Regions from separate parts of the Homo sapiens genome. Here all the other regions are linked to region 2. The links come from fine-mapping of genetic effects on gene expression. A gene starts in region 2. Each other region holds a variant in brackets. All regions are shown on one strand. Distances are from middle to middle.

Region 1 (6,836 bases), 22 kb after region 2:
GATGCCTTCCTCCACAGGACAGCCCTCACTTCAGACACCAGCTGCAAGTTCAGGGTCCTCACTTTTGACCAGATGGCCTCAAATTCAGGGGTTCCCACCACCCCCTCAGATTCCTAATTCACTAGAATGACTCACAGCACTCAGGTAAATGCTGAAGTTTCATTTACAGTTTTATTACAGCAAAAGAACACGAATCAGAACCAGCCACAGCCAGAAGCACTGCGTCCGGGCTGGGTGGGTCCCCGGTGCAAAGCGCTGTTATCCTCAGGGACACCTTAACCCTCCTGGTACCTCCATCTGTGACAATAGACAGAGCATCACTAACCAGGGAAGCTCACCCGAGCCTCTGTGTAGAGTTGTCCTTGGGGTTTTATATGCAGGCATGATGGAGGAATCATACACCACACACTAAACTCAAGCTCCAGCCCCTCCGTCCCCGGAAGTCAGGCTGATAACAAGTGGCTCAAAGACCCAACCTTCTAATTTTGTTTTCTTTTTCTTTCTGCTTTTTTTTTTTTTTTTTTTTTTGAGACAGGTTCTTGCTGTGTTGTTCAGGCTGGAGTGCAGTGGTGTGATCACGGCTCACTGCAGCCTCAAACTCCTGGGCTCAAATGATCCTCCCTTATGGTCCCTCTTATGGGACCGTAAGCATGCACCAACACACCCAGCTAATTTTTAAATTTTTTTGTTTGTTTGTTTGTTTTGAGACAAGGGCTCCCTCTGTCGCCCAGGCTGGAGTGCAGTGGAAGGATCATAGCTCACTGTAGCCTCAATCACCTTCCATCACCCAGGCTCCAGAGCCACAGCCTTCTAATCTCACGGTTGGTCTTCCTGGACCTAGAGTCATTTGCATAAATGATCGGGTGTCCTCCGAGGCCCGATCGTGAGTAACACAGACACTACTATCACTCAGGAAATTCTGAGGATTTACAGGTTACCTCCCAGGAACCAGGAACAAAAGCCAGTGGAATTCTCAATTCCACACAGGGTTGACAGCGTCAGTGTCGAGAGGCATCTCCCAGCCAGCCCCCTCAGTGGGTGGTTCCCTGAACCAAGAATTGGGGGTGCATTTTATTCTCAGCGGTGGGCTCTCCTAATTCCAGGAAAACGTGGAGGATCACACAGGGCACCTCACTCCTCCTTGTCATCCACTCTCCATCTCATTTAGCTCTCACAGCAACCTCCAGGCAGGGTCAGGCATGAGCCACTGTACCCAGCCTTTTTTTTTTTTTTTTTTTGAGACAGAGTCTCTCTCTGTTTCCCCGGCTGGAGTAAAGTGGTGCGATCTCTGCAACCTCCACATCCTGGGTTCAAGCAATTCTCCTGCCTCAGCCTCCCAAGTAGCTGGAATTACAGGCTCGCGCCACCACACCCAGCTAATTTTTTGTATTTTTAGTAGAGATGGAGTTTCGCCATGTTGCCCAGGCTGGTCTCAAACTTCTGACCTCGAGTGATCCGCCCGCCTCGGCCAGCCAAAGTGCTGGGATTACAGGCATGAGCCACTGTGCCCGGCCTAAGGCTTGATTTATACATTTTAGGAAGACAGAAGTTACAGGAAAAGACATAAATGGACAGAGGTAAGGTATACATTGGCTCAGCCCAGAAAGGTGGGACATCTTGAAGTGGGGGTGGTTTCCAGGTCATAGGTAGATTTCAACATTTGCTGATTGGCAATTTGTTGAAAATGGTAAGCTCTGCCTGAAGAGCTGAAATCAGCTTGAGTTATGGTAAGTGGTGGGTGGTTGTGGAAGCCAAAGTTCTTGTCTTGTAGATGACGCCTTCAGGTAGCAGGCTTCTGAGAGAAGAGATGTGAATGTCACAGGTGCCAGTCTCTCCAGAGAGACCTGAGAAGGGAAGGGGATTCTCTACAGAATGCAGATTTCCCCCATAAAAGAAAGCTTTGGAGGGCCATTTCAAAATATGTCAAAAAAATGTATTTTGGGAGACCAGGCGCGGTGGCTCATGCCTGTAATCCCAACACTTTGGGAGGCCAAGGTGGCTGGTGGATCACCTGAGGTCAAGAGTTCAAGACCAGCCTGGCCACCATGGTGAAACCCCATCTACTAAAAATACAAAAATTAGCTGGGCATGGTGGCAGGCACCTGTAATCCCACTACTCGGGAGGCTGAGGCAGGAGGCCAAGGTTGCAGTGAGCCAAGATGGCACCATTGCACTCCAGTCTAGACAAGAGCGAAACTCCATCTCAAAATTTAAAAAAAGAAATATACTTTGGGGAAAATCCTTTTGTTACTGGTGGAGGGTGTCCAGGTTTTTGGTGTCTTAAATAATTGTACAAAATTCACAAACAAACAAAGGAAAGAATGAAGCAACAAAAGCAGAGACTTATTGAAAACAAAAGTACAGGCCGGGCGCGGTGGCTCACGCCTGTAATCCCTGCAGCATTTTGGGAGGCCAAGGCAGGCGGATTACTTGGGGCCAGGAGTTCGAGACCAGCCTGGCCAACATGGTGAAACCCCGACTCTACTAAAAATACAAAAATTAGGCCAGGCGCGGTAGCTCATGCCTGTAATCCCAGCACTTTGGGAGGCCAAGGCAGGCGGATCACGAGATCAGGAGTTCAAAACCAGCCTGGCCAATATGGTGAAACCCCCATCTTTACTAAAAATACAAAAATTAGCTGGGCGTGGTGGTGCGTGCCTGTAATTCCAGCTACTCAGGAGGCTGAGGCAGAAGAATCGCTTGAACCCAAGAGGCGGGGTTTGCAGTGAGCTGAGATCGTGCAGCTGCACTCCACCCTGGGCAACAGAGGAAGACTCTGTCTCAGAAACAAAACAAAACAAAAATTATCTGGGCGTGGTGGCGATGCCTATAATCCCAGCTACTCAGGAGGCTGAGACA[T/C]GAGAATTTCTTGAACCTGAGATCGTGTCACTGCATTCCAACTTGGGTGACAGGGCAAGACTCTGTCTCAAAAAAAAAAGAAAAAACAAAACAAAAGTACACTCCACAGGGTGAGAGCAGCCTGAGCATAGGGGCTAATTTTTGGGGGTTTAAATACCCTCTAGAAGTTTCCATTGGTTACTTGGTGTACGCCCTATGTAAATGAAGGGATGAAGTAAAGTTACAAAGTCATTCACTCGGTGTACGCCCTATGTAAATGGAGAGGATATTTCCTGTCATAGTTGAAGTGTTTCCATTTGATTCAGTTCTAGGAAGTCCTTAGAGTCCCTGCTTCCAGATCCTATTCTCCTGTCTCACTTTGATTGCCTTTTTTTTTTTTTTTTTTTTAAGAGACAGGGTCTCACAGCTCACTGCATCCTCAACCTCCTGGGCTCAAGGGATCCTCCCACCTCAGCTTCCCAATTAGCTGGGAATACAGACATGAACCACCATGCCCAGCTAACTTTTGTGTTTTTTGTAGAGATAGGGTTTCACCATGTTGCCCAGGCTGGTCTTGAATTCTAGGCTCAAGCCATCCGCCCGCCTTGGCCTCCCAAAGTGCTGGGATTACAGGCGTGAGCCACCACGCCCAGCCTTATTTTTTTTACTATTTTATTTTTTGAGACAGGGTTTTGCTCTTGTTGCCCAGGCTGGAGTACAGTGGCGCCATCTCAGCTCGCTGCAACCTCTGCCTCCCAGCTTCAAGCAATTCTCCTGCCTCAGCCTCCTGAGTAGCTGGAATTGCAGGCATCTGCCACCATGCCCAGCTAGTTTTTTGTATTTTTAGTAGAGATGGGTTTCACCATGTTGGCCAGGCTGGTCTCAAACTCCTGACCTCAGGTGATCCTCCCGCCTTGGCCTCCCAAGGGAGGCTGGGATTATAAATGTGAGCCTCCATGGCCGGCCCATAGCTGCCTTTGGACATTTGCATTGTTTGGGGGTTTTTAGCTCTCATAGACCTGGACCCTCTTGAACTGACAAATTTGGCACAGTTGAGCCAAGAACCTTGTGACTTCCTGAATCATTTGCCTCCTGAGTTGTTATAATGTCTCCTTAGTGTTTGCCTCCTGCCTTCTCAGCCCCTACAGCCCTGGCCTTTTTCCTTGCTCCGTTTCTGTCTCTTCCACCCCATCTTGCCAGTGCAGCTATGAATCCGGCCATAGGGGCAAGGAAGCATGTCATTTGGCAGGAGCTTCTGCGGTGCACAGAGAGAAGGCACTAGAAGCCCCTTGAGGGTTTCCACTTGAACCAAAGTCTTCAATGATGTTCGGGCATTTCAGACCCCCTCAAATGCCTCCAAAGACTCCCACCAAGAGCTACTGAAACCGAGGCATAGGTGAGGTCGAGGACTCAGTGCCTTGTGATTCCATTTCAGATTTTCCAGAGACCAGCCCAGCAGCTGCTGCCTACCACTGTCCTTGCTGAAGCTGGGAAGGGTCACTCCTAGCAGGCTTGGCTCTGTCTGCCTGTATTTTGCTCCTGCCCCCAGCATGGTTTCTGGTACCCTATAGAGAGAATCAGCTTAGAGATCCAAGTTGGTATTATTTTTAGAAATAAAGATCACTCAGTCCCAGCTTGCTGAGGCTTGTTTGGAGAATGAAAACAGGGAAAGGCCTCATATTTTTCCAAAGTTCAAGTTGGAGTGGCGCAACGTGGATGCAAAACTTCTGAATTATTGCCTGAAATGTTCTTTATCCTTGCAAAGACTGACCTTGTCTTCCAATTAGTTCCTCCCTTGGGGACAGGGCTGAGCAATCCTAAACACACCCCTCTTTGTCTTGTCCTGTTTGTTCCTGGACAATATTTCATGCCAAATCTCTACTTATGCCACCCTTTGTCTTCTAGTTTCTAGTACAGAGGAGATCTTTCTATAATTCATGCCGAAACTGGCCCGGTTAACAAGCAGCTCATTTTTTAAAACTTGAAAACTGAAATAGGGTTGTAGATGCAAAATGTCATTTTGTGGAGGCACAGCTGTCTTCGTTCTGGCAGGAGGTATCCAGCTGGTCTGGAACCTCAAGAGTCAGTCTGGTCTTATAAAGAGAAACGGTAAAAAAAACAAAACTGGTCAAGTGAAGTCTCACTTCAAACGTCAAAAAAGACATGTTAAGGCCGGGCGCGGTGGCTCACGCCTGTAATCCCAGCACTTTGGGAGGCCGAGGCGGGCGGATCACAAGGTCAGGAGTTCAAGACCACCCTGGCCAATATGGTTGAAACCCCATCTCTACTAAAAATACAAAAATTACCCAGGCGTGGTGGCGCATGCCTGTAATCCCAGCTACTTGGGAGGCTGAGGCAGGATAATTGCTTGAACCCAGGAGGCGGAGGTTGTGGTGAGCCGAGATTGTGCCGTTGCACTCCAGCCTGGGTGACAAGAGCAAAACTTCATTTCAAAAAAAGAAAAAATCAGCCGGGCGCGGTGGCTCATGCCTGTAATCCCAGCACTTTGGGAGGCCGAGGAGGGCGGATCACAAGGTCAGGAGATCGAGACCATCCTGGCTAACACGGTGAAACCCCGTCTCTACTAAAAATACAAAAAATTAGCCAGGCGTGGTGGCGGGCGCCTGTCGTCCCAGCTACTCAGGAGGCTGAGGCAGGAGAATGGCGTGAACCCGGGAGGCGGAACTTGCAGTGAGCCGAGATTGTGCCACTGCACTCCAGCCTGGGTGACAGAGCAAGACTCAGTCTCAAAAAAAAAAGAAAGAAAGAAAGAAAAAAATCCCTGACCCATCAGTAAAAATGAAGACTCTGTGGAAGTTGTCAGAAGCAAAATTGAGTCACTTGTGTTAAAACAAAACAAAAAGCTCTGACAAATAGAGCTGGGAAAGGCTATAAAGAGAAGGTTCTTATGCATAAATGCCAGATAACAAAAACTATCACGGAAGACTCAGCAAAAATCACAACCTTGCACAAAGGCCACTGAAACCTTACACAAAAAATACTTCTGCGAGGGCATCTGCCCAGCAACTGCCTGTACAACCTGGCACTGGGTCACACTTGTTGTTGATCCTTGTAGCCAAGGAAAATTATCCCAAAACAATTGTGTAATCCCCCTCAATCTTCCTCTAAAAACGTTCGTCCTCCTTTACCTAGTTGGATACACACATAGTTTACTATGGCACACATATTCCCATTGTCATGCCCGATCCCAAATAAACGTTGCTTTATTTCAGAGAGTCTCTCTCTCTTTTTTGTTTTGAGACAGAGTCTCACTCTGTTGCCCAGGCTGGAGTGCAATGGGGCGATCTCGGCTCACTGCAACCTCAGCCTCCCGGATTCAAGCGATTCTCCTGCCCTAGCCTCACTAGCAGCTGCGAATATAGGCGGATGCCACAACACCCAGCTAATTTTTGTATTTTTAGTAGAGACAGGCTTTCACCATGTTGGTCAGGCTGGTCTCGAACTCCTGACCTCAGGTGATCCTCCCACCTCGGCCTCCCAAAGTGCTGGAATTACAGGCGTGAGCCACCATGCTGGGCCACAAATTCTGTTTAACAAGATTAAATCTGACTCCAAGTCCTCTGCCAGGACTGGTACATAAAAGAGCCCCAGGGCCTTCCGCAGTTCCTGAGCTTCAAGGAGAGCCTCCGGTCTTCATTCTTTCCTCATCTTTATGAGAGTCCCCAGGGTACTTGTTGGAGTCCCCACCTCCTCGTCCAACTGTCCCTTCAATTTGTGAGGACTCCCCCTCTCCAAGGCTGGGGCACTCAGGGACACTTCAGTTCTTGCCTTTGGGAATTTAGGCTTTCAATAATAAAAGCCTCAATTCCAGCTGCTCGGGAGCGTCATTTGAACCCAGGAGTTTGAGTCCAGCCTGGGTAACATAGTGAGACCCTGTCTCTTAAAAAATAAATAAATAAAAATAATAAAAGCCTCTTAAGGGAGTCTCAGGTCCTCAAACACGTCCCTGTGCGCCTTCTTTCTCTTAAGACATGCAG
Region 2 (6,836 bases):
GGCTGAGCTCTGAGGCTGCTTCAGGTTGGAGGTGCTATAATTATCAGGGTGGTAGAGGCCCCCCCACCATTAGGCTGAACCAGCTCTGGTCCTGAGTCCCCCACCAGAATGACTATGCCTGGGGCCAGTAAAATCCATTGCCCATCCCAGGGGGCACCATTGGCCATCATTACCATTAAATTCTATAGTCCCGGCCAGAACGAGAACCCATTCTCTCCCCAGTCACCAGGACAGGACGAGCAGGCTGGGAATGTCACTTTATTTGGATTTGGTTCGTGGGGTGGGGGTCTCAGAACAAACTAGAAGGCCTTACATAGGCAGCTGGGCCCAGCCAGCTGGGCTCCTGACCCAGGACTTCATTCTGGCCTGTCCCCCCAAAGCATAGCCTCCACCTTCTCACCCTTCTCCAGAGGAGTCTCCTCCACCCCCACAGGAGCTGTGGACAGGCCCTGCAGCCCTAGGGAAGGAGGAAGGGTCCTGCAAGTAGACACTAAGGCACAGCGCGGCCCAGGGGTCATAAGGGCTCTTCTGGCGGTGGCATCTGCTGGGGCTTCCAGCTGGGCGGGGGCTCCACGCAACCGCTGACCATCCAGAAGTAGTTTGGGTGCACCTGGCCCTGCACGGCCTCGCTAACCATCAATTCCCCATCCACTGCAAACACACCTTTCCCATCCTTGGGCTCCAAGCGGAAGGCGACCACGGGCACATATACCAAGTAGGGGCATTCATACTCCATATGCCTGCCCTTCTCCATGGCCAGGAAGAGGCGCAGCAGCATGGCACGAGACACTCCCGCCCGCACGTAGAACAGATGCATGACGCCAGCTGCACAGCGGCCCATGGGTGCAGCAAACATCTCACTGCCCAGGTGCGAGTGCAGCAGTGCCAGGACTAGCACAAAGTCCTCGTCGGGCACCACTGTCCAGTGAGAGGGCACTGGCTCCTCCAGTGGCACAAGGTGTGCATCTACCGGGCCCTGCTGGACCACAACGGGGGAGGCAGGTGTCTTGGAACCCACTCTTCCTACAGGGAGGTAGGCCAGTCGGCCGCGGTAGGTGCGCAGGGCTGCCAGACGCAGGAAGGTGCCCAGAGTGAAGCGCATCTCCCCCAGACGCCGATACTTCTCACTCTCTAGGTCCACATCAGCAATGAAGCCCCAGGCCAGGCTGAGCACAGAGAAGAGGCGCAGCCCCGAAGCCGTGTGCAGAGACAGCAGGTTCATGGGTGACAGCAGCCGGCGGCACAGCAATAGCGTGCAGTTGGTCAGGAGGTCTTCATTGGTGACCTGCTCATAGCTGCAGGGGGAAAAAGTCAGATAAGGCAGGACAGGAGCCCCCATGTATCCCCCGCTTCCTCCTCCCGGGGAGTGGGAGCTGGCAAAGCGCCATGTGGTCCCTGGGGAGTTGGCAGGACTGGTAGGTGACAGATGGAGCAAATGGAAGCAGTCAGCTGGGGTCACCAGGAGAGGGCCCCAGGACTAAGGGAGAAGGGGAAATGGAAATGATCTCAGCCTATGGGAGCTTAGACAAGAAAACCCCCGCGGTAGAGGAGCACTGACGGGAAACAGGCCTACTCTGGCCCTGGGCTCTCACCCAGCATAATGGTTCAAGGAAGCTGCCAGCGCGTTGCCAGAGCCTGCTGGGAGGCTACACAGGGGCTTCTGGATGGCGGTCTCCCAGTCAGGCCGCTCCATGAGCCCGTTCACCACCTGTTGAAGCACACGTGGCCTCAGCCTGGGACGCACCGCGCCAAGCCCCAGGCCTAGCCGCGCAGTGCGGTCCTCACCTCGTGCATCAGCCCGTCTCCAGACATGACCACCAGAGCGTCCCAGCGGCCCAGCTCCTCCGACCGCACCAGCTCCCGCGCGTGGTTCCGCCGCTCTGCAGGGAGACCGGCAGCTATCAGGACTGGGGGGGTCCCCTGCCAGGGGATGCTCCCGAAACCCCCTCCGAGAGGTACTCACCAGTGAGCATCAGCGTGAAGGAGATTTCAGCCTCAGCCAAAAGGGGCTGCACGTGACTCCGGAAGAGCTGCAAGGCCTTGCCCTTGCCGCCGCGCGGGTTCAGCAGCACCAGCACGCGGCAGGGCCGCGGGAGCACGCCCCGGGGGCCGCCCGCTGAGAAAACAAAACCAAAGAGGCCACGTCCGCAACCGACCACTAGGGGGCCACGGGTAACAATGGGGCACTAGTGTGGGAACTTGGTGCCCGAAACACCCCGGTAATTGACCCTGGCCAGAGGAGCGGCCTTTGCTGGGAGACCTGGGGTGGGGACGCGGCGCCCCTGCCACCCCCTTCCTTGGCTCAGATTCGGCCGGCTTCTGGCCTCGTGAGGGATAATGTTTCTCCCGATCGTCCACAGCCCCTTTCGTCCAGCTGGGCGTTCCATCATTCCTGGCGAGGAACAGGAATCCCCCTACAGCCCTTCCCAGCAGGAACCCCACAAACCTGGATCCATAACCTCGACCCGCGGCTCCCGCTGCCAGGGGGTCCCTGGCGCTGTGGGGGCGCTGCCCGTGGCGGCGGCTCCTGCCTTCAGCTCCTTATCGGTGCTGCCCAGGCGGGCGTCGCAGGGCCGGCTGTGGGGCTCGCCTTCCCCGCCCGGAGCCGTGGCTGCAGGAGCACCGGCGTCATTCCCTGCGGCGGCTGGACCTGAGGGAGAGAAGACAGCGCTGGCGGAGTCCGGGGCCGCAGCTGCCAGAGGTGGGGAGCGCCCGACTAAATCCCGGGACCACGCGCGGGGAGCCAGGTTCCCGGGAAGTCCAGAGAGCTGAGGTCCGGTGCCTCCGAGGGCGCCCCCGCCGTGTGACTAAGCCTACAATCCCTGAGAAGGGCGCCTGCTCCGGGGCTTTCTCCCTGGGGCTTGGGGTTCGGTTCCGGCCCGACGGATGAGTCAGAGCCCCGTGGCTCCCTCCGACGGACTAGCTCCTCACCCCTCGGGGCTGCCAGGGGGAGGGGAGTCCAGCTGCGTAAAAATCCCAGAACTTGAGCGGACATTGCTGGGCACGAAGTTCTGGGAGAGGATCCCTGCCCCAGCCATCCAGGTTGCCGTGTCCCCTGCCCGGAGCTCCAGAGCGGTGGGAGCCGCGGCGCGCGCTTCTCAGGGCCCCGCTCCGTTGCGACGCGCGCGGCGCTCGTGGGAGCCGCTCCCGGGTCGCGCCAAAGCCAAGCCCGAACCGGGCCACCAGCTGCCGCCTGCTCTCGCCCAAGCGACAAGTGGCCCAGTTCCCGGGGCCCCGCGAGGGCGGGCCGCACAGGAGCCACGAGCGGCGCGAAGGCAGGGTGGGCGGCCCTACCCAGTCGGTCCGGTTTGCTGGGGAGGCGCCACCGCCGTTCCCTACAGTGGCCTGGGGCGGAACGCAGCTCGTCCCAAGCTCAGCCCACGTCTGAGGGACTGGAGCGCCCCGCTGGAGCGGACTCCCCGGCCTCGCTCCCTCCGGCCTCAAACTTTTCGCTCAACTTCGCAGCCGGCGCCGCGGAGCGGGGAGGGCACTGAGCCTCGGCGCCGGCCTGGCTCCGCCCCGCGCTCCCGGGGGTGGAACCTGAGCCCGGCGCGGCCTCGGCCTCTGCCCGCCTCCGGCCTCAGCGCGCCGCCTCCGGCACGGCCCGCGCCCACGGCCGGGCCACGAGCTGGTTCCCGCCCGGGTCCTAGGAAGCGGCAAGCGCGCCCCCGCCGCTCGTCCTAGGCGTCTGGCTAGAAGGCGGCGCCGCGACCTGGCCGGGTGAGCTGAGGCGGCAGGCCGCGAGGCGCGGAGTCCCGGGCCCGGCCGCGAGCGCAGTGTCTGGGGCGCGCGAAAGCGACCGCGCAGCGCAGACGGAGGCGCGGGCTCCGCGCGAACTCGTGTCGGAGCGAGCGCCGGGCGCGCGCGGCTCCGCTCTCCCGGGGGACCCTTGGTTTCACCTCGACGCCACGACCTCGCCCCCGCGGGTGCTGTCGGCGCCGGGATGCAGCGCCCCTTTTGCGCGCTCTGCCCTAGCCCACCCGAAATTCGAGGCCCGCACGCCACCCGGGGCGCCTCTCCAGGCCGGGGCGTCTCGCCCGCCGCCCACCAGCTTCCCTCTTTCTTCCTCCCCCGCGCTCCCACGGAGGTTATTTTTAACTTCCCGACGCTGCAGCTGGGCTACCGAGCCTGAGGCCGCCTAGCGCGCTGTCCCGGGTAGAGCAGGCGACAGGCCGGGGGCTCCGAGCCGGAGAGGAGGCTTGACAGTGTAGATGGGCCTGGGGGCCCCCGTCGGGATTGGAAAGCCAAGCATGTGGTACGTGCCCCCCGCCCCCTCTGGCTCAGCGTGAAGAAGGGGCGCCGGAAACGCGCTCAGAAGTTGTCACTTCTTTGGAGGCCAGTAGGGACGCGTTTGTCAGTGTGTTTGTGATACACTTATCGCGGCAAGCCACAGAACGTGTCCGCGAGCACCTCGAGTTAGATCCCTGGGGGGTTACGGCGGAGACGGAGGAAGAAGTTGCCAAGGCCCATTGGTGACCTGCCCAGGTAGGGCCAGAGTTAGGAGAAACCAAGCCCCTGCGGGAGGCTGCGGGGCTCGCGCGCCCCCGCCGGCCCCACCCGCCCCCACACACCTCTCTCATCGCTTCTTAAAGTCGAGAAGAGGCAGGTCCAGGAGGAGCACGCAGCCAATTAGCCGGGCGGCGCCCTGAACTCCGGCACGCCTCCGCGGTGTCTTCTCTTCCGGAGGACCCAGGCAGCTCGGCCCCGTTTCCCAACACTTGGGGGGTCAGACGGGCGGGACCCGAGAGTCCCCGGGCGGGTCGGGGGGCACTGGCTGGGACGCGGGGTCCCTGGGGCCGCAGCTCCGCGCGCGTATCGGCGGGTGCGCCTTCGCCTTGCGCGGCCCCCGGGCAGTCCCCGCTGGGTCCAGAGCGTCCCGAGCGCGTTCCGGGAAGGTGACTCAGCGACGCGCTCAGGGGTCGAAAAACTCCGAGAAACAGGAACGAGGGGAGGGAGCAGGGGCGTCATCCCCGACTCCTGGCGTCGCGGCGCGTGTCGGAATGATGGGTCCTGCACCTCCGAGCCCCCCACCCCCTTGCTCCAGGAATCCGGCGCGGGCGGGGGAGAGAGCCCTGCAGCCGCAGTGCCGCGGTCATGCGCTGCGGGGACGCGAGCGGCGGCTGTGGGAGGAGGGGGCTCCGCGCGGGAGCCCAGGACCAGATCCGTCCGCCCCTCCCCTCTCCTCTGCCTTCTTCCCCTCCTCTTCCTCCAGCGAGGGACTTTGGTGCCTAGAAAACGCGAATCGGAGGCTGTGCTCCCCGAGATCTCAGCCTTCGAGGGTACTGGCTGCGGAGATTAGCTGGGGCAGCCTTCCCCGTCTGCTCCCCGCCCCGGAGAGCATTTCCACCAAATCTGAAAAGCTCTGTCATTAGCCATAGAGTCTGAAGAGGGGAAACTGAGGCACAGGGAAGCACTGTGAGTTCGTGGTGATAAAGCCCACCTGGTTCAGGGTCCCCCCTTTTTTTTTCCTCCTGGGGCCCCAGAAAGGTCGGATCCTGCGCCTCCAGGCCCACTACCACCAGCCTTGAGTCCGCGGAGCGGGCGGGGGCGGGGTTGACTGCAAACTGAGTTGGCAAGGGGAGGCGGGGCACGGGCTCTTTATCCAACGCCTCCGGGCCCCAGCTCCCCTCCTGGCTCTGGAAGGCCCCGCGGGAGGGAGGCGAAGGGCAAAGCCCTCTGGCCCCGGTTCCAGGCCGCACAATGGGTCCTCTGTCCTCCCTGGCGCCTAACCCCCTGCCCCCCTCACCTCCAAGGCCTTTGCCCCCCTCATTCTTGTCATTCACTTCCCCCAACCCAGGCTGCCTTTCTCCAGACCCCTTTCCCCTTCTCCCTTTCTAAAGAATTTGATCCTATCTCCAGAAACTCCCCCAGCTGCATCCCTGCTCAGAGAGGCAGGATTGGCCAAGAGCAAGATGGTTCCCCTTCCCACGGTTGCGGGTCGGGGGGCGGGCACTTGGATCTCTCAAGCTGCCAGCTTGGCCCGTTTCCCACTGTACTTTACTTCCTTTTTTAAAAAAGAAAAAAGGACAAGGCGGGAAGGAGTTGGGGGGGCCTGAAACCCTGAGAGGTGAAGAGGCTTGCACAAGCCTCCAACCAGTTCCCCACAAAGCAGAGAAGCAAACCTGTGAACCCAGACCCCACGCTGAGAAGCCAAGTCCAGCCAGAGCTCCCCTCTGGGCCTCTCTGTATCCCAGGCTATTTCTCCCTGAAGGGCAGGTATCTGGGGATCTGGTGCCTGGTGGATTGCTTGCCGCAGAGCTGTGGCGTCTCCCTGAGGAGGAGGAAGCAGCAGGCCGGGCGCAGTGGCTCACTCCTGTAATCCTAGCACTTTGGGAGGCCGACGTGGGTGGATCACCTGAGATCGGGGGTTGGAGACCAGCCTGACCAACGTGGAGAAACCCGTCTCAAACCCCGTCTCTACACCGGGTGTGGTGGCGCATACCTGTAGTCCCAGCTACTTGGGAGGCTGAGGCAGGAGAATTGCTTGCACCCAGGAGGCAGAGGTTGTGGTGAGCTGAGATCGTCCCATTGCACTCCAGCCTGGGTGACAGGGCGAAACTCCATCTCAAAAAAAAAAAGAAAGAGGAAGCAGCTCCAAGCCCTCCCCAGGCTTCATCCTGAGTCTGGAAACAGCTGAGCAGCCGCTGTGCTCAGCAAGGCCCACCGTGGGCCTGGGAACAGGCCTGGGCCGGCAGAGAGGTCTGATTTGATCACCAACCCAGAGCTTGGCTTGCAGGTAATCTGCTTCACAGGTGGGAGACTTTTTCTAACTTCCCCAGCCTCCCCTTCCTTGTGGGCAGCCTCCCCAGGGAGACACACCTGAGAACCCCCTTTTT
Region 3 (6,836 bases), 21 kb before region 2:
CCGGGAGGCGGAGCTTGCAGTGAGCCGAGATCGCGCCACTGCACTCCAGCCTGGGCCAGAGAGTGAGACTCCATCTCAAAAAAAAAAAAGAAATGTTAGACAATAAATAGCTCACCAACTCTGAGGTTGTTTAGAATTTCAGAGCCCATGAGGACAGTTGAAATCTCTTCACCCCCGACCCCAGATCCCCTCCTAGTAACAATTTTTTTTTAAACTACAAGCAGGGCACCCCTTAACAGTAGGGATTGGGTTTATTCCAAGGTTTAGTTTTGTTCACAAATCTGGTGCTTTCCCAGAGTGGGCACAGTGCCCTCTAGTGTTCACCTGCCAGGCCGGCTGGCACCTGTCATTTGCTCTTTGGAGGTAGAAGGGGAAGTGGAGGGCAAACTGTGCCTAGCAGGCATCCGCAGTCAGTGGCCACCATTGCTGCCTTCCACTTGCCTCAGAAATGAAGAGAGTTTTTCTTTCTTTCATAAGCAGAAGAATCACTGTCTTTAAATGTGTAGACCTGCCAGAAGTCTTTCCCTGTCTCTGTAGCTCTGGGGAGAGATGAGCTTTTTATTTGGTTAAGAGAATGGACTCTGGAGCCAAACTGCCTGCGTTCAGGTCCCAGCTCCACTACTTGTGACATTGAATGAGTTGCTTATTTTCTCTTGGTCTCAGTTTGCGTATCTGCAAAATGAGCATGGCAGTGATGTGCTTCATGGGTTGTGGAGCACCTCATGGGCGAAGACAGTGAAACGCTTGGAGAACTGTCTGCCAGGTAGGAAGCACCTGGTTAGCATGAGGCGAAAAACTCCAGAGCTCTTGCATTCGCCAGGAGCACGTCGGTTCCTTCCTGACGGGGGCACTGAAAGGCTTTGTGAAGCAGGTTGTGCATACGGGGGCAGGGAGAGGAGGACATTTGGAAGTAACTGTTCAGTGGAGTGGCTCACAGATGGGAGGGTATGGGCTTATTTGGAGAAAGCCAGTGCCCAGTATGGGTGGGGTATAGGAAGTTAGGAAGGAAAGTCACAAGAGCCTCCCAAGTCATCCTAAGTCCTTCCACATGCCGTTGTCTTGGGTTCTAATTCCCAGTGGAAGGGAGTGTAGCCACCATGTTACCATCCCCCAGCCCCTTGTCGCTCCCACTCTGCTCCCAGCACCATCAGGTCTTTGGAGAAATGTAACTCCTTGTCATAGAAAGGTCAGAAGAGCCCCTGGAGGCAGCATCCTGGTGAGGTGGAGCTGCTGTTGTCTGGAGACCCCACGGGAAGAATGGCATTTGCTGCCAGCCTCCCTCTCCTGGGAGCACTGGGCACTGCCTGCCCTGCCAGCCTCTGGCCTTGCCATGATGCCAGCTTTCACCAGCTGTTTTTTTCTGCTTCAGCCTCAGAGTTGACACCTCGGTTTCCCCTGCACTCCCAAGGGTGCTGTTAGGCTGAACAGGGTGTTTCATCAGTGACGGCACTGATTTAGGTCTGTGTCTGCGTTCTTCTCTCCTCCTTTCCTGGCTGCTCTCTCAGGGACCCCCAAGTGGTGGAGGCAGCCCTCCTGCCACACATGGTGCAGCCCCCCTTGCATTGGATTCTCCTGTCCTGCCGCTTCTGGCTTCTCTGGGAGCAATTGTGGCTTTTTGAAGTCTAAAATGGGAGCAGGGGATTAAGATAGGGTGGGGCAGCACAAAAAAATGCCGTATCTCAGAGTGGAGATTTGGGCACAGAGGGTTACAGGCACAGAATATTCTTTGATTTAGAAAAGTGGCACCGTCACGCCAGCATGCCTCTCCAGCCTCCTGGGGTCTTGGAGCAGAGATAAGGAGAGCCTGACCTTTCAGGGGTCTTCACCCTGCAGCTCACAGGGCCAGTGATCACAGCTGCCGACCTTGCTGAGCACCTACTCTGTACCGTGCACCATGTGCCACCTGCGGTCCGCTGCCTTGGTGACTCCACCTCAGCCATGCTGAGACAGCTGCCATCATCTCTCCTTCCACATGTCGGCAGGAGTGGTTTGCCTGACGTTCCTGTGTCTGACTCAAGAACCCTGCGTTTAAGGACTGGGCAAGTTGTCATTTGAAACAGGCTCATACCTGGATGCAGTGGCTCACGCCTGTAATCCCAGCACTTTGGGAGGCTGAGGTGGGCAGATCACGAGGTCAGGAGTTCGAGACCAGCCTGGCCAACATGGTGAAGCCCCATCTCTACTAAAAATACAAAAATTAGCCGGGCGTGGTGGCACGTGCCTGCAGTCCCACCTACTCGGGAGGCTGAGACGGGAGAATTGCTTGAACCTGGGAGGCGAAGGTTGCAGCGAGCCGAGACTGCGCCATTGCACTCCAGTTTGGGCAACACAGCGAGACTCCATCTCAAAAAAAAAAAAAAAAAAAAAAAAACAACTTGGGCTCATGAGTTCCCATGGGACTCTCTGCACTGCTGGTTGGTGGTGGGGTTCATTGCTTTTCTTTCCTTTTTTTTTTTGTGAGTCACGTTCTTCTACTAGCAGAGTTTGTTTTAGTTGTCATTGCCAGCATTTAAGTGACCTTGAGCCAGTATCTTCCTTTTTCGGCGACTCAGTTCTCCTTTCTTGGTGGTGACCTCTCAGTGCCCCCAGGTCAAGAGAGGCCACCACGGAGGAGTGTCTGGTTGGCTATTTGAGGAAACAGCTCTCCAGCCATGTGGTTTGGGGTCTCGGAGGTGGACACACACAGAGACCCATCCATGATTATGACCCAGTGAAGAACCATAGAGGAGCTGCCCCAGGTTTGAGGAACCAGCTAAAAAAGACGCAGGCTGGCCTGGTGGGAGCATCACGTGCCTGGGCTTTTGGGCGATGGAGCAGCAGGAGGCAGTGGCCGCTGCCAGCTGTGCGTAAAGAGACAATCAGGTGCTCGTGCAGTTGGCCGGGCTCCAAGAGCCAACCATCCTGAGGGTTACTTAGCAGCCTGCAGGGCTCCAAGCGCAGCAGATAAGGTGCAGGCCGCAGCTGGTCAGGAGGATAACCCAGATTAGAACATGGTGTCCGGTGATAGCCAGGCTTCAGGGTGACCCACCGCAGCCCAGTGTCCTGCTTCTCCCCCAGCCCACTCTCCCTCAGCACTGATCAGCTAGGGCAGGCACTTGCAGAGGGCAGAAAAAAGATTGAACGCAAAGCAAATGTTTTGCTCTCTGTAGAATGGGCTGTTAAATCCTTCATTAAAGTGCAGCCTTATGTGATCTGTCATTGAGCTGCACTGTTCAGTGTGAGGAAGGCTACCTCCGGCAAGCCAAGTGCCTCTGGTGGGTGAGACAGTGACCACAGGGGCCCCAGGAGGCCTGTGGGCGTGACGCGCTCTGCCTGTGGGTCTGGGTGCTGGTCGGAGGTGTGTGCGGTCTGTGAAGATACTGCTAGCCAAACGCTTAGGATTTGTGCACTTAGCAGTGTGGATGTGACGCTTTCCTTCAGAAGCTGGAAGAAAACTGTATTCTGTGGTGGCTTCAGAGTCCATTCTCTCACACCTGTATTTTCTTTTACAGCTGAAACTAGAGGACCGTTCTGTGGTGCCCCGAGATGTGGTCCGGCACATGCGATCCACCGTGAGTCCTGCGTCCCCACCCCAGCCCCGGGCCTGGGGGCAGCCACCTTAGGGACTTGAGCCTGCCCACCTC[G/A]CACTCTGCATGTGGGAGAACTGGCCAGCTCTGCAGGGGGTGCGCTGGGGTTGCCTGGGCTGGGTCTCCCCTGGTGACCAGGGCTGCTGCACCACGGGACTTGCATGTCTCCTCCCTCCCCCAGGACAGTCAGTGTGGCACGGTGATCGACGTCAACATCGACTGTGCCGTCAAGCTCATCGGCACCAACTGCATCATCTATCCCGTCAACAGCAAGGACCTGCAGCACATCTGGGTGAGCCGGCCCTGTCTTCTCATCATCCTTTCTGGGCCCTCTGGTTCTCTCGGCGGCACGACCTCTGGGCTACAGCCTCCTCCGTGCTCTTGCCAAGCACAGCCTTCCTGGGTCAGAAGGCGGAGCACAGCAGCCAGCTGGCTCCTGTAGCCTTGTTTTCGCTGCTTTCAAGTAAGCCATTTAGACATGAGGTCAGGACGTGCCCTTCCCCAACCCCAGCATAGGCTGCCAGTGTGGTTATCTTTAAGTGTTTTTCCTTTCTCCTCTAACATTTCTTTAAAAAAATAAATTATTGGAAATAGTTTATTTTTTTAATGATTTCAAACTTACCAAAAGTTGTAAATTCCTGTGTCCCTCCATCCAGGTTCCTCAGCTGTTAAGATTTCACTTCGTTTGCTCCATCACCTTCCCTCCCTCCTTTTCCCCGAGATCCCCCTCCGGTCTTTTTTCTTCCCAAAACATTTGACAGCAAGCTATAGATGTGATGCCCTGTCACCCACCCCGGAATACACACACCTCTTGTGTGTTTTCCAAAAATGAGGACAGCCTCCTGTGCAACCACCATATAACCCCCAGATTGGGAAATCAACGTTGATAATTACTGTCCAGTCCACAGACCACATGCAGTTGTCCCAACACTACTCTTTTCTTCTTTGCGGATCCAGGACCCAATTCAGGAACACATCTTGCATTGAGTTGTCATCTCTTCATTTTCTCTCCAATCTGGAATCGCTTCCCAGCCTTTCTTTGTCTTCCATGCCCTGAACAGTGATACATTCAGTAATTTGACCCTCAGCCTGGGTCTTCCTGGTGTTGCCTCATGCCCACGTGTTCTTGGCAGGCCCGCCGCAGAGCTCTGCCCTGGTTCATGGTACCCCATAGCCAAAGTGCTGGGGTTGTTCACTTTTACCCCTGGTCATGTTGGTGTCCACCAGGTCTCTCCACCATAAACTCACCATTTACCCCCTTTAAGTGATTGTATTTTGTGGGAACGTAGTCCCAGATTATGTCTATAACCTGTCATTTGTCAAACTGAAATCCACCAGCTTTGGCCTCCATTCACAGTTCCCCCTGCGCCAGCCATTGCTCTGATGTTGCTAAATGGTGGTTCTATGACTCCCTTGTTCCCCTCATTTCTTTTAGCTGGCATTCTGCTCTGTAGAAGAGCTTTATCTTCTGCCCTATTTATGTATTCTTTTTTTTTATCAGTATGGACTTAGAGATTTCTGTTTTATTCATTGGTTATAATTAATTACTACTATTATCTGTTCTGTTGCTTGGATGGTCCCAGATTTAGCCAGTGGGAACCCCTTCAAGCTGGCTTTCATGTCCTTCTCACATGGCCCTTTTTGTTGGTTTTTTAAGAACTTTCTTTCTTTCTGGCATGAGATGTGCCAGGCTCATCTTGTACTTTTTGTGATCCAGCCCCAGAATCAACCATTTCTCCAAGAAGCCTCATTGTTTTCAGAGAATGGTATTTTTAAAACCCAAGATCTGGATGCTAGGTGTGCTAATTGCTACTTGGCTCTTTTGGGACACACTAGGAAATACATATGTATTATATGTATACACACATCTAAATATGTCACTACCTGCTCTATGTGTATATTAAAATATATGAGTTCAGGCAGAGTTCACGGGCGCAGTGGCTCACCCCTGTAATCCCAACACTTTGAGAGGCTGAGGCAGATGGATCACTTGAGCTCAAGAGTTTAAGACCAGCTTGGGCAACATGGCGAAACCCCATCTCAACCAAAATATATGAAAAAATTGGCCAGGCACGGTGATGCATGCCTGTAGTCCCAGCTACTCAGAAGACTGAGGTGGGAGAGTCGCTTGAGCCCAAAGATGGAGGTTGCATTAAGCCAAGATCACACCATTGCACTCCAGCCTGGGCAATAGAGCAAGACCCTGTCTCTAAAAAAAATAATAATAAAGTAAAATAAAATATATGAGTTCATCCTGATAGATCCACTTCCACCTAAACACCTCAGACTCCTCTTCCTTCTTCTCCTTCCTGCTCCCTTTCTGTTAGTAAACACCTGGGCACCTTCTCCAACAATGAGGGACTTGGCTCTCGATATCCTTGATGTGTTAACGTATTTACTCAGAGCACTGTCCATGTAGCCACCCCCCAGTGGTGTGGCTGCCTCCTCTGCCTGCCACCTCCACAGCCTACTTTGCCAGGTGTCCTGTGTCCATGGATGTCCCATGTCCATGGATGCCATCAGGCCTCTCTGCCCCTGCATCACCCACCCCGTTCCCTCCAGGCAGCCCCACCACCACCACCACTTCCTCCTCACTGGGAAGAGCAGCTGGGATGCAGCCTAGAACTTGTAGGGAGGGCCTGCTGCAGCAGCTGTTTAGGGCTAGTAGCCAACCGGTCCAGTCAGTGAGCTGTCTAGATCCTCCCCCATCCTGTCTTCGGTGGGGCATAGAGGAATCTGTGCCCTGGACATGAACGTTGTCTGCTGTGTCTCACTGCCCCTGCCTCCTTGGTCTGCAGCCCTTCATGTATGGGGACTACATTGCCTATGACTGCTGGCTGGGGAAGGTCTACGACTTGAAGAACCAGATCATCCTGAAGCTATCCAACGGCGCCAGGTAGAGTCTCACCACCAGAGAGCCATCGGCTTGGGAAGGATAGCCTCTTGGAAAGAGGGGAGGAGGAGGGTGTTTCCTCCTGGGGACAGTGATGACAGGTTTGATCAAGGGCAGTGACAGATGTTGCAGGCATCCAGGGCCTAACCCTGTACCGTTCTCCTTATCTGCCGTGGCCTATTTCTGTTGCTCAGTTTCTGATCTGTCCTGGCATGGGGAGAAACGTTTTCACTGAGGATATCTGCTAGAGGCTGATGCTTTACTTGAGGCACTGTGATGGTGCTGAGCAAGCACTCCAGTGGCACTTGGGGTCTTGTTCGTTGTGGGAGAGTTTCTTGTACTACCTCGGGCTGAGTTGATGGTAGAAGACGAATTGT

Which allele goes with the higher level. Alleles are on the strand shown, and positions count from the first base shown. SD is a standard deviation of normalised expression in the study named. Not every link is listed here.
In carriers of allele C in region 1, the expression in esophagus mucosa of the gene that starts at base 3,492 in region 2 tends to be higher than with T alone (moderate effect, 0.72 SD a copy in GTEx).

Evidence for each region. PIP is the estimated chance that this variant, and not a neighbour inherited with it, causes the effect.
Region 1: its variant is fine-mapped to the expression of SPHK1 in esophagus mucosa (GTEx, PIP above 0.99).
Region 3: its variant is fine-mapped to the expression of SPHK1 in whole blood (INTERVAL, PIP above 0.99).

The regions. Positions count from the first base shown.
Region 1 is chr17:76,359,582-76,366,417 of GRCh38, reverse strand. No RefSeq gene overlaps it. Among named protein-coding and RNA genes, the nearest start is that of PRPSAP1, 9.1 kb to the right of the region's middle. The variant T/C (reference allele first, on the strand shown) is at 2,860.
Region 2 is chr17:76,381,265-76,388,100 of GRCh38, reverse strand. SPHK1 (sphingosine kinase 1) reads right to left here and starts at 3,492. Exons shown (of 6, transcript NM_001142601.2): 1 at 3,295-3,492; 2 at 2,447-2,650; 3 at 1,964-2,116; 4 at 1,786-1,880; 5 at 1,593-1,708; 6 at 246-1,295. The coding sequence starts at 2,456. The coding sequence ends at 515. RefSeq lists silencers at 3,125-3,824, 4,405-4,544, 4,565-4,854.
Region 3 is chr17:76,402,228-76,409,063 of GRCh38, reverse strand. It overlaps UBE2O (ubiquitin conjugating enzyme E2 O), which reads left to right. Exons shown (of 18, transcript NM_022066.4): 2 at 3,492-3,551; 3 at 3,748-3,858; 4 at 6,365-6,462. Among named protein-coding and RNA genes, the nearest start is that of SPHK1, 21 kb to the right of the region's middle. The variant G/A (reference allele first, on the strand shown) is at 3,624.